Linked DNA regions of Homo sapiens. The protein of the gene in region 2 purifies or fractionates together with the protein of the main gene of each other region. This does not show direct contact. Each region holds a gene or a part of one and is shown on either strand. Other genes may lie near its edges.

The links.
Region 1: the proteins of LZIC (region 2) and GINS2 purify together in Homo sapiens (affinity purification with mass spectrometry; one large-scale study listed by BioGRID and IntAct). This does not show direct contact.
Region 3: the proteins of LZIC (region 2) and CDK8 purify together in Homo sapiens (affinity purification with mass spectrometry; one large-scale study listed by BioGRID and IntAct). This does not show direct contact.

What each region holds. Positions count from the first base shown.
Region 1 is NC_000016.10:85,682,455-85,685,954, forward strand, and holds part of GINS2 (DNA replication complex GINS protein PSF2), read right to left. Parts: intron 1-3,500. UniProt on the Homo sapiens protein: Required for correct functioning of the GINS complex, a complex that plays an essential role in the initiation of DNA replication, and progression of DNA replication forks.
Region 2 is NC_000001.11:9,933,296-9,937,023, forward strand, and holds part of LZIC (protein LZIC), read right to left. Parts: intron 3,333-3,728; coding exon of another isoform or gene 3,325-3,332; coding exon 3,224-3,324; intron 2,333-3,223; coding exon 2,197-2,332; intron 1,566-2,196; coding exon 1,467-1,565; intron 1-1,466.
Region 3 is NC_000013.11:26,260,558-26,264,285, reverse strand, and holds part of CDK8 (cyclin-dependent kinase 8), read right to left. Parts: intron 1-3,728.

The DNA.
Region 1 (3,500 bases), on a different chromosome or scaffold from region 2:
AAGCCACCCCAGCCTGGGCGTGATACAATATCCTAGGGGCTAAGCCACCCCAGCCTGGGCGTGATACAATATCCTAGGGGGGTTAAGCCACCCTGGCCTGGGCGCGATACAATATCCTAGGGGTTAAGCCACCCCAGCCTGGGCACGATACAATATCCTAGAGGGCTAAGCCACCCCAGCCGGGAGGAGGCATGACATCCTAGAGGGGTGAAAGCCCAGCGTCTAGAATCAAACAGCTGTATCCAATTCCACCAGCATCAGCACTGTTCTCACACATGCTCCAGCTCCCTCAGCCCTCCCCCTCTACAGAGAAACCTGTCCTGGGAGCAGACTGTGTACTATAGCTAAGGGACAAGCACGGAGCACAGCTACGCTGCAGGGTCCCATTGTAAACGGCCAACTACCCATCCCCAGGGCCCTTGGTGCCGTCCTGCAATCCTGGCCCAATTCCTTGGTCTACTCACCCTCTCTTCACTGCCGCCAGCACCGCCTCAACCCACCACCCACCTCTCACCTGACACCCAGCTGAGTGTGACCCACACACCACCCCATCCCCCAAACTCCCTGTGTAGCTCCTACCCACTCGAGGACCAGCCTTCCAGGTGTCCTGGACCCTCCTCTCACCTGCACAGTAAGGCACTCCAGCAGCTCTCATGCTCTTAAATGATCACTGTCCCCTCCTTGCTTGATCCTCCCAAACACACTAATAGATATAGCCTTAAAAAGAAGGCCCTCCGTGAACACCCCTCTGAGCTTGCTTATGAACTCACTAGGCTCCCCTTTTTGTCTCCTGGCAATTCCTCCTGACCTCTCGACACTGGGACAAAGAGCTCAGCTCCCAACCCCTTTCTTCACTACCTAAACTCATATCCACACCACCTCGTCCAAATGCTACCCACATGCTCAGAAAGACCTCCAAATTTATACCCCCATCAGCCCCTGAGCTCTAACTCCTAACTCAATAACCTCATTGCTGCTGTAACTTCCTCCTGGATATCCAGAAAGCACAACAGTTCAAACCCCCAACTCCTGATACCCACTGCAGCCCACAGCCTGCTCCTGCAGCCTCCCACCTCAGGAGACAGCAACTCCCTCTCCTGGGCCTCCAGCCAAGAGCCTGGCTGTCAGCTTTCACTCTTCTCCCTCACACCCCATGGCCAGTCCTTCAGCCAATCCTGCTGCTGCTTCCTTCAAAACACACCTAGACACCTACCACATCTCCCACCTCCATCAGCCAGAGGCCACTCTCAGTGCTTGCCTGGATTCATTCCCTGCTCCTATTGCACCAACCTTCTCTACACAGCAGAGTGATCCTTTCATTAACATCTGAATCAGCTTATGAAACACCTCTGGTCCAACTTTCTAGCAAATAAAAAAGCTACAGTCAAAATTTTTGGCCAGGACATGGAACAATGGGAACTCATATTTCTTGTAGGATAAAGGCTCAGCTGCTTTGAAGGACCAGGTGGCCGTTTCTTACAAAGTTAAGCATTATCCCTGAGATCCAGCAAGTCCATCATTCTAGGTATTTATTTACCCAAGGGAAAAAGAAACATATCCATGAAAAGACGTGGACAAGAATATTCACAAAAGCCTTATTAAGAATAGCCAAAAATGAGCCAGGCACAGTGGCTCACACTTGTAATCCCAGCACTTTGGGAGACCGAGGTGGAAGCCCCGGAGTTCAAAACCAGTCTGAGCAACAAAGTGAAACCCTGTCTCTATAAAAATTAGCTGAATGTGATGGTATACACCTGTATTCCCAGTTACTCAAGAAGCAGAAGTGGGAGGATCGCTTGAGCCCAGGAGGTGGAGGTTGCAGTGAGCCATGATCACGCCACTGCACTCCAGCCTGGACATCAGAGCGAGAGACTGTCTCAAAAGCCAAAAATGAGCTGGGCACATTGATGCACACCTGTAGTCCCAGCTACTAGGGAGGCTGAGATGGGAGGATCACTCGAGCCCAGGAGTTGGAGGCTGCAATTCACTATGATCACACCTTTGAATAACCACTGCAATTCAGCCTGGGCAACAGAGAAATCCCTGTCTCTAAATTTTTTGTTAAAGCCAAAAAGGGGAATCCCAAATATCTACCAACAGAAGAATCGGTGAACAAATATGTAGTATGGAGAGTACCCAGCAATGAAAGAACATAGCCAGGTGGTGTGAATATGAGTTTCAGTAGTGGAGAAAGGGGTTGGGAGCTGAGCTCTGTGTCCCGGTGTTGAGAACGTAAACAGGTAAATCTCAAAAACAGTGTTGGATAAGAGAAATCAGAAACAAAAAATGACATACTAGATTATTCCATTTACATGAAGTCCCAGAACAGGCAGAACTGGATTTGTTTTCCTGAGATGGAGTCTCGCTGTATCTCCCAGGCTGGAGTACAGTGGCGCGATCTCAGCTCACTGCAACTTCCACCTCCTGGATTCAAGCAATTCTCCCTGCCTCAGCCTCCCAAGTAGCTGGGATTACAGGCGCCCACCAAACACCCAGCTAATTTTTGTATTTTTTAGTAGAGACAGGGTTTCACCATGTTGGCCAGGCTGGTCTTGAACTCCTGACCTCAGGTGATCCACCCATCTCGGCCTCCCAAAGTGCTGGGATTACAGGCATGAGCCACCGCGCCTGGCCCAGAACAGGCAGAACTTATCTGTGGTGCAGAAGTCAGGAGGCAGCAGGCTGTTGGGTAGGGTCTATAGACAGGTTAATGGTGCCTCACTGTTCCCACAATATGGCTCCAGCCCAGGTAAAAAGTTCAAGGGGAACTCTCCACACCTTCTGACTCTAGCCTGCGATAAAACAGGCCCTTGCCATGTTATCACCTGGGGTCTAGATGGGACAAAAGTGCCAGACACTGATTTTAAACAAGGGGCCTGGAGAGGATGCTGCATTAATGGAGCCAGGCCTGGTGAGCCTCTCCTCTACAAAAGCCTTCCGGCCAGGGGCAACAGCTCACATCTGTAATCCCAGCACTCTGAGAGGATCACTGGAGCCCAGAAGTTTGACACCAGCCTGGGCAACATAGCAAGACCCCCATCTCCACTAAAAAAAAAAAATCAAAAAATTAGTCAGGCATGATGGTGCACACCTGTAGTCTCAGCTACTCCGGAAGCTGAAGCAGGAGGATGACTTGAGGCTGGGAAGTCAAGGCTGCAGTGAGCTATGATTGCATCACTATAGCCCAGCCTGGGTGACAGAGCAAGACCCTTTCTCAAAAAAAAAAAAAAAAAAAAACCGTCTCAAAGCAGAGGAACTGGGGTTTCCCATTATGTTTCAGGACTACCTGAGTCACTTGCCACTTTAGGACAGGGAGCAAGGGGAAGACACTAAGCAGTCTGTCTTAAACGGACCCCAGAGTGGCTGGCTCAATGAGCTCTTGCTTCTAGGAGGTAGGTACCCCCAATAAGTCCCAGTAAGGAGGGGGCAGTCAAAATCACTCACGGCTGAGACCCCATCTCCATAAAAAGAAAAAAAAAAAATCACTCAGGGTCTTTTCA
Region 2 (3,728 bases):
ATATATACACATACATATAGCTTTTCAGACGTACTTCTTAAAAAAAAATCCTCTAGCTGATTAATATTATAAAGAACTACAGATATAATCCAAGGCAAATATGATAGAAATGTTAAATGCAGTTCTAGTAAATCATCTAGTAAAATATCACCTCTTCCACCAGAAACACTAATAGCATGTACCACACATTGGGAATATTCAAAGTACTTTTACACATATTACTTCATTTAATCCTCATAAGAACCATAAGAGGTAAGGACTATCTTTGTCATGTTTTTACAGACAGAGAAACCTAGGCACAAAGGGGATGAATAAAATAAGTTGTCCAGGCCAGGTACAGTGGCTCATGCCTGTAATCCCACCACTTTGGAAGGCTGAGGTGGGTGGATTGCTTGAGCTCAGGAGTTCAAGACTATCCTGGCCAACATGGTGAAACCCTGTCTCTATGAAAAATACAAAAATTAGTGGGGTGTGGTGGTGTTGTGCCTGTGGGCCCAGATACTTGAGGGGCTGAGATGGGAGACGCTTGAGCCCAGGAGACAGAGGCTACAGTGAGCCGAGATTGCATTACTACACTGAGCCTGGGTGACAAAGTAAGACCCTGCCTCAAAAACAACAACAACAACAAAAAAACAAAAAACAAACAAAAGGCTAGGCGCAGTGGCTCCCATCTATAATCCCAACACTTTGGGAGGCTGAGGCGGGCAGATCACTTGAGGTTAGGAGTTCAAGACCAGCCTTGACAACATGGTAAACCCCATTTCTACTAAAAATACAAAAATTAGCCAGGCGTGGTGGCATGTGCCTGCTGTAGTCCCAGCTACTCAGGAGGCTGAGGCAAGAGAATCACTTGAACCCAGAGGCAGAGGTTGTACTGAACCGAGATTGCGCCACTGCCCTCCAGCCTGGGCAACAGAACAAGACCCCATCTCAAAAAAAAAAAAAAACATAAAAAACTTGTCACATACCTCAGTAGTGAAGCAGGAATTCAAATCCAGCCAGTCTGACCAAAGTCCATGCTCTGAATCACTATGCTACTGAATTGCCCATACTTACAAATAATTTGGTAACTCTTAATTACATCCAAGCCTATAAACAGACTTCTGGAAGTATCAGGTTTACAAAGATACTTGAAATTCTTAGATGAGATAGGCTACACATGCATACAAGCAATGCTGCTAATTAATTCTCAATGTGATTTTAAGTTAGAGCTCCAGAAGTAAATGGTAAAACATTAAAGGTGGAGTCCAGGTAGAAGTGGTCAGTGGCAATTTAAACTGCCGTATATTGTTTAAAGCTCTACATTCATTATCAACTATAATTGCTCAAAGTACTAATTTTGTCAGAAAATTGTTAGTTGTGGCTCTAAAATCACCTGGCAAATTTTTAAGCCATAGGATATCATAATGAATTGGCCTAGGAAATGAAAAACACACAGCAACCAAATCAATTTAAAGAAATTTTACCTCTGCTAACCTTGTCCGAAGCTGACCTGGTTGTTTCTTTGCAAACAATCTGATGACCTCTGGGGTTTTAAAGGCCTGGCTGATAGCTGCCTGAATAGCCTAGAAACACAAGAAGGCAAAAACTAACCAAAATAGTCCAACAAATCAGATATTGCAATAACTGATTGACGGATCCTTAATTTTTATCAAGGTTTACTGGTTCCTGTCATGGAAGCAATTACACAACTAAATGAAGATCTGGAAGGATATGTTGTGTATGCATAAACAGACACTCATCTAGAAGTTACACCTTGGGAGGCCAAGGCAGGAGGATTGCTTGAGCCCATGAGTTTGAGACCAGCCTTGGAAATGTAGCAAGACCCCATCTCTAAAAAAAAAAAACTAAAGGCCAGGCACAGTGGCTCACGCTTGTAATCCCAGCACTTTGGGAGGCCGAGGCAGACAGATACCTGAGGTTGGGAGTTCAAGACCAGCCTGACCAACATGGAGAAACCCCGTCTCTACTAAAAATACAAAATTAGCTGGGTATGGTGGCACATGCCTGTAATCCCAGCTCCTCAGGAGGCTGAGTAAGGAGAATCGCTTGAACCTGGGAGGCGGAGGTTGCAGTGAGCCAAGACTGCCCCACTGCACTCCAGCCTGGGCGACAGAGTAAGAATGCATCTCAAACAAAAACAAGAACAAACAAAAAAACAAAGTCTGTCCTCTGTCGCCTATATGTTATACTTACCAGCTGCATTCCACTTAGTTCATCTACCAAAGTCATATTTCCAGACATAATTTTCTTTAGTGAATCATTAAATTCACTTAGTTGCTCCAGAGTTTCCTTTTTGGTTTCTTCATATTCATCTGTATCAAGTTCCTCTCTGAAATAGGTGAACATCATGATATGGAAAAATGAAGAGTTCCAAGTGAAAAATGCAATCTTAATACTTGTACATTAGAGAAAGACTGAAGGGAAATATCAAAATGCTGATGGTGAATGTGTTCACATAGTAGTAGTGAGGGCATTTTCCTGCAATATAGTTACTTTGGTAAACATTTTTCTTTTACCAAAATGAGGATACTTAAGAAACCACATAATAAAGCAGGGTGCCGTAGCTCACACCTGTAATCCCAGCACTTTGGAAGGCTGAGATGGGCAGATCACCTGAGGTCAGGAGTTCGAGGCCAGCCTAGCCAACATGGTAAAACCCCGTCTCTACTAAAAATACAAAATTAGCCGGGCATGGTGGTGCATGCCTGTAATCCCAGCTACTCGGGAGGCTGAGGCAGGAGAATCGCTTGAACTTGGGAAGCAGAAGTTGCAGTGGGCTGAGATCTCGCCACTGCACTCCAGCCTGGGCAATACAGCAAGACTCTGTCTCAAAAAAAAAAAAAAAAGCTGCAATGAACTGTTGTGGTCCTTTGTGCAGGTAAGGCTGAAACTACATGCCAGAAGTTCAAGTAGTACCTTCTTAGCCTGACAGCAGGTAGGACTGATTTAAATACTAAAGACAAAGTAGGTGTTATTTCTACTTCAAGGAAGGTAAGTATTTTGCTCAAGTTCACATGCACTTAGTAGTTAACTGAATGACTTTCATTTCCCAGCCTTTATGACTCCAAAGCCTGCAATAAGTTTACTTCTCTAATAGACAAAGCACTGCAAAGAACACTACAGGGGAATGCAGAATCATCACACATGGGCCTGCATCCACGGAGCTAGCTGCAGAAAAAACGCCAGTTTCCAGCATAACAACATACAATTAAACTCTTACCTGCATTCCTCCAGATCTTGTAATTGTTGCATGAGTCTATCCAACTGTTCTTCTAAATTCTGCTTTAATTTGCTTGTCTCTGTCTTTCCTCTGGAAGCCATTTTAATCTCTATGTGAAACAATAAACCCACATACCATATGAAATTAACATACCAGTGCAATTTTTTTAAGTTTTATTTTTTGTAGAGACAGAGTCTCACTATGTTGCCCAGGCTGGTCTCGGAACATCTGGCCTAAAGTGACCCTCCCATCTTGGACTACCAAAGAGGTGGGATTATAGGCATAAGCCACCACACCCAGTCCCTAGTGCAATTAAAAATATGCAGCTGCGGCCAGGCGCCGGTGGCTCAGGCCTGTAATCCCAGCACTTTGGGAGGCCGAGGCGGGTGGATCACAAGGTCAGGAGATCAAGACCATCCTGGCTAACATGGTGAAACCCCATCTCTACTAAAAATACAAAAAAGGCCGGATGTGGTGGCTCACGCCTGTAACCCCAGCACTTTTG
Region 3 (3,728 bases), on a different chromosome or scaffold from region 2:
ATTAATTTTAAGAAAAAAAAGAACGGCAGCTAAAGGCAAACCATAATGAAATGCCAAATATTTAAATAATTTAATTTTACACTTTAAAAAATCAACATTAAGTCAGCATTAAAAAATAAATTACAAGTATGTCTTGCTTTCTGTCTGACATTTTCTTGGAAATTAGGTATAAACTTAATTTTTGCAAAGAAAGTCACATAATAAAACATTAGGAGACTCATTTACTTAAAGGGAGTCTTGGCTGGGAGCGGTGGCTCACGCCAGTAATCCCAGCACTTTGGGGGGCCCAGGTGGGCGGATCACGAGGTCAGGAGATCAAGACCATCCTGGCTAACACGATGAAACCCCGTCTCTACTAAAAGTACAAAAAAATTAGCCGGGCGTAGTGGCGGGCGCCTGTAGTCCCAGCTACTCGGGAGGCTGAGGCAGGAGAATGGCGTGAACCCAGGAGACGGAGCTAGCAGTGAGCCGAGATCGTGCCACTGCACTCCAGGCTGGGTGACATAGCGAGACTCCGTCTCGAAAAAAAAAAAAAAGGGAGTCTTTTAGCCGGGCGCGGTGGCTCACGCCTGTAATCCCAGCACTTTGGGAGGCCGAGGCAGGCGGATCCCTAAGGTCAGAAGTTTGTGGCCAGCCTGACCAACATGGTGAAACCCCATCTCTACTAAAAATACAAAATCTGCCAGGCTGGTGGCACATGCCTGTAATCTCAGCTACTCGGCAGGCTGAGGCAGGAGAATCTCTTGAACCAAGGAGGCGGAGGTTACAGTGAGCCAAGATCGTGCCATCGCACCCTAGCGTGGGCAACAAGAGCAAAACTCTGGCTCAAAAAAAAAGGTAATACCTACTCCCGGCCGGGCGCGGTGGCTCACGCCTGTAATCCCAGCACTTGGGAGGCTGAGGCAGGCGGATCACGAGGCCAGGAGATCGAGACCATCTTGGCTAACACGGTGAAACCCTGTCTCTACTAAAAATATAAAAAACTAGCCGGGTGTGGTGGCGGGCGCCTGTAGTCCCAGCTACTCGGGAGGCTGAGGCAGGAGAATGGCGTGAACCCGGGAAGCGGAGCTAGCAGTGAGCGGAGATCGCGCCATTGCACTCCAGCCTGGGCAACAGAGCGAGACTCCGTCTCAAAAAAAAAACCGAAAAACAAAAAAAACCTACTCCTTCTTTCCTCAAAAATATGACTTGTTTAATATAAACTACATTAGCACGACTTGACAAGTTTTCTTTTTATTCAATCCCTTTAGTCCTCTAAACAACCTATAGATTCAAATGTCTAGAAACACCCAGAGTAGGCCCTTCATCATGATGTAAAAATTCCTCTCTGTAGGATGATTATTTGTTAGAATTCATGGATTACAATAAAGTTATAGACTTTAAAGAACTTGTCTAGTGAGATGAGTAACTGAGTTACCTTGAATAGAAGTTAGTCTAAATAATTTTTTACTCATGTAACAAAAGGTAAATTTCAAATAAAACGATCATGCTATACAGACCAGTGATTTTAGGCAAAATTAAATGCCAACTGTGATTCAGAAACTAATTACGTTTTCCTTAATTTTAGAAATACAGATTTGATCCACATTTTAAAGGGTTCATTTTCAAAGTATATTTCAAAAAAATATTATTTCTAGTGGCTCAATTTTCAAATACCTTGGCCTTCCATTTCGATTCAGCCAACTACCGAGCTTGCTCTTGCCTTTGGATTGATTTTGGTATTGTTCAGTGCCATTCTGGGTAAAAACATAGGAAACCCATCAAATTTTGCTTCTCCTGGTATTTTCACAGGTATTACTTTTCTACTCTTCCCGTAATATGCCTCAAGCTTTTAATGTTAGCAAGTTTAGAAAAAAGATTTTCAAACATGAATTTCAGATACACACACACACACATACACAAAAGTACAAAATACCTGTCAAAATTTGGCAATATGCCAAGAGCTGGGGAGAACACAATCATTGCCCTAAAGGAAATCTATAATTTTAACCCATAAACATTCACCTGAAAGACCCAAAGGACACATAAGCATTAACCACATATACACTGAAGTAGTTACATAATATATCAGTGAATGACTATGTTTTGCAGGGTGACGGGTAAAGTGGGACTTATTGGAGTTGTATGTTAAGATACGTAGTTAGGATTTTTTTCTGAGGCTGTCAGTACATTTCAACTGAGAAAAAAGCATTTCCAGCACAAGGTGCTGCCTGAGACAAAAAAAATTCCAGCACAAGGTGCTGCCTGAGGAAAAGGTCAGAGTGGTCTAAGTTGATGGAGGAGAGCAGCTGTATGAATCTCTGTTTCAGAATTACTGCAATAGATTATGGTGTGAGCACTGTCCTGGAATAAAATAGACTAGTCAGGTCTTGTACACAAAGAACAAAGAACTTGGTCCTAAACCAAAGTCAATGTAAAGTCACTCAAAATTGGTTCTCAGCTGCTTTGGATATGATCCAGAAATTCCACTCCCAGGTATATACTGAAAACATACATCCACCTAACAAGTCACACATAATTGCTTATCGAAGCATTATTCATTTTAGCCAAAAAGTGGAAACAACCCAAACGCCCAATTGATGAATATATAAACAAAATGTGGTATATCTATACAATGCAATATGATCCAGCCATAGAAAGGTATGAAGTACTGATACATGTACCACATGGATGAACCTTGAAAACATTACATTAAATAAAGAAACACAAACACAAAAGGCCACATGTTGAATTAGTCCATTTATATGAAATGTCCAGAACAGGCAAATCCACTGAGACAGAAAGTAGATTAGTGCTTGTCAACGGCTGGGGAGAGAGGGGAATGGGACTGACTGCTTAATGGGTTTCTTTTTGGGGTCATGAAAATGTCCTAGGATTAGACAGTGATGGTGGTTGCACAGCCTCGTCGATCTACTAAAAAACACTATACTGATCACATACTTTTAAAAGGGTGAATTTTATGGTATGTGACTTATATCTCAATTTTTAAAAAGGAGCTCTCAGCATTTTTTCTGCTACAATACATCTGAAGAACATAACTCCATCAGTAAAGGCAGCTTACTACAGCAAGGACTGGTTTTGGGACTTTGACAATAACTATATTAAAGAATATTCAGAATCATGATACCAACAGTCTTTAAGTACTAAGGTCAAAACAACAGGTAAAAGCCACCTTTTAGTGACATCAAGAGCTGCCTTGAGGTGATAAAAGATTGCTAAAGAGAAAAGATAATTTCTAAGTAACATGACCAAGGCTACGTAATCTGGTGTGAAGGAAAAAATTCACAAAGTGTTCTGAAGGAGGAAAGGATAGTAGGAGTTTTATTTTCTAGCAGCAGCTAAGAACAGAAAAAGAGTCAAGAGACAATGAGGATTGGATTCAATAGTGAAAGGCACTACAAGAAAGATTAACACCAGTCACAGGGAATCAAATGTATTTATCAACACTGATTTGCCATACATAGTTCCCATCTAACAAATGAATCACATTTCAAATGTTTATAAATCAGAATTAGAACACATTTGCCCAGAGAATTAATTGTCAAAGTAGTTACGTTTGCAAATGGCCTATAATAATTATAATTTTTCATTATTTCTGTTTTCCTAGCTGAAATTCAGCATGCCAGAAGCCCTGTCCCTACCTTTCATCTTTCCACACATCAGAGCCCCAACAAGAGAAATTCCATTACTTCCTAAACTCTAAGTAGCAAAAGAACTTCTTTCCCCTT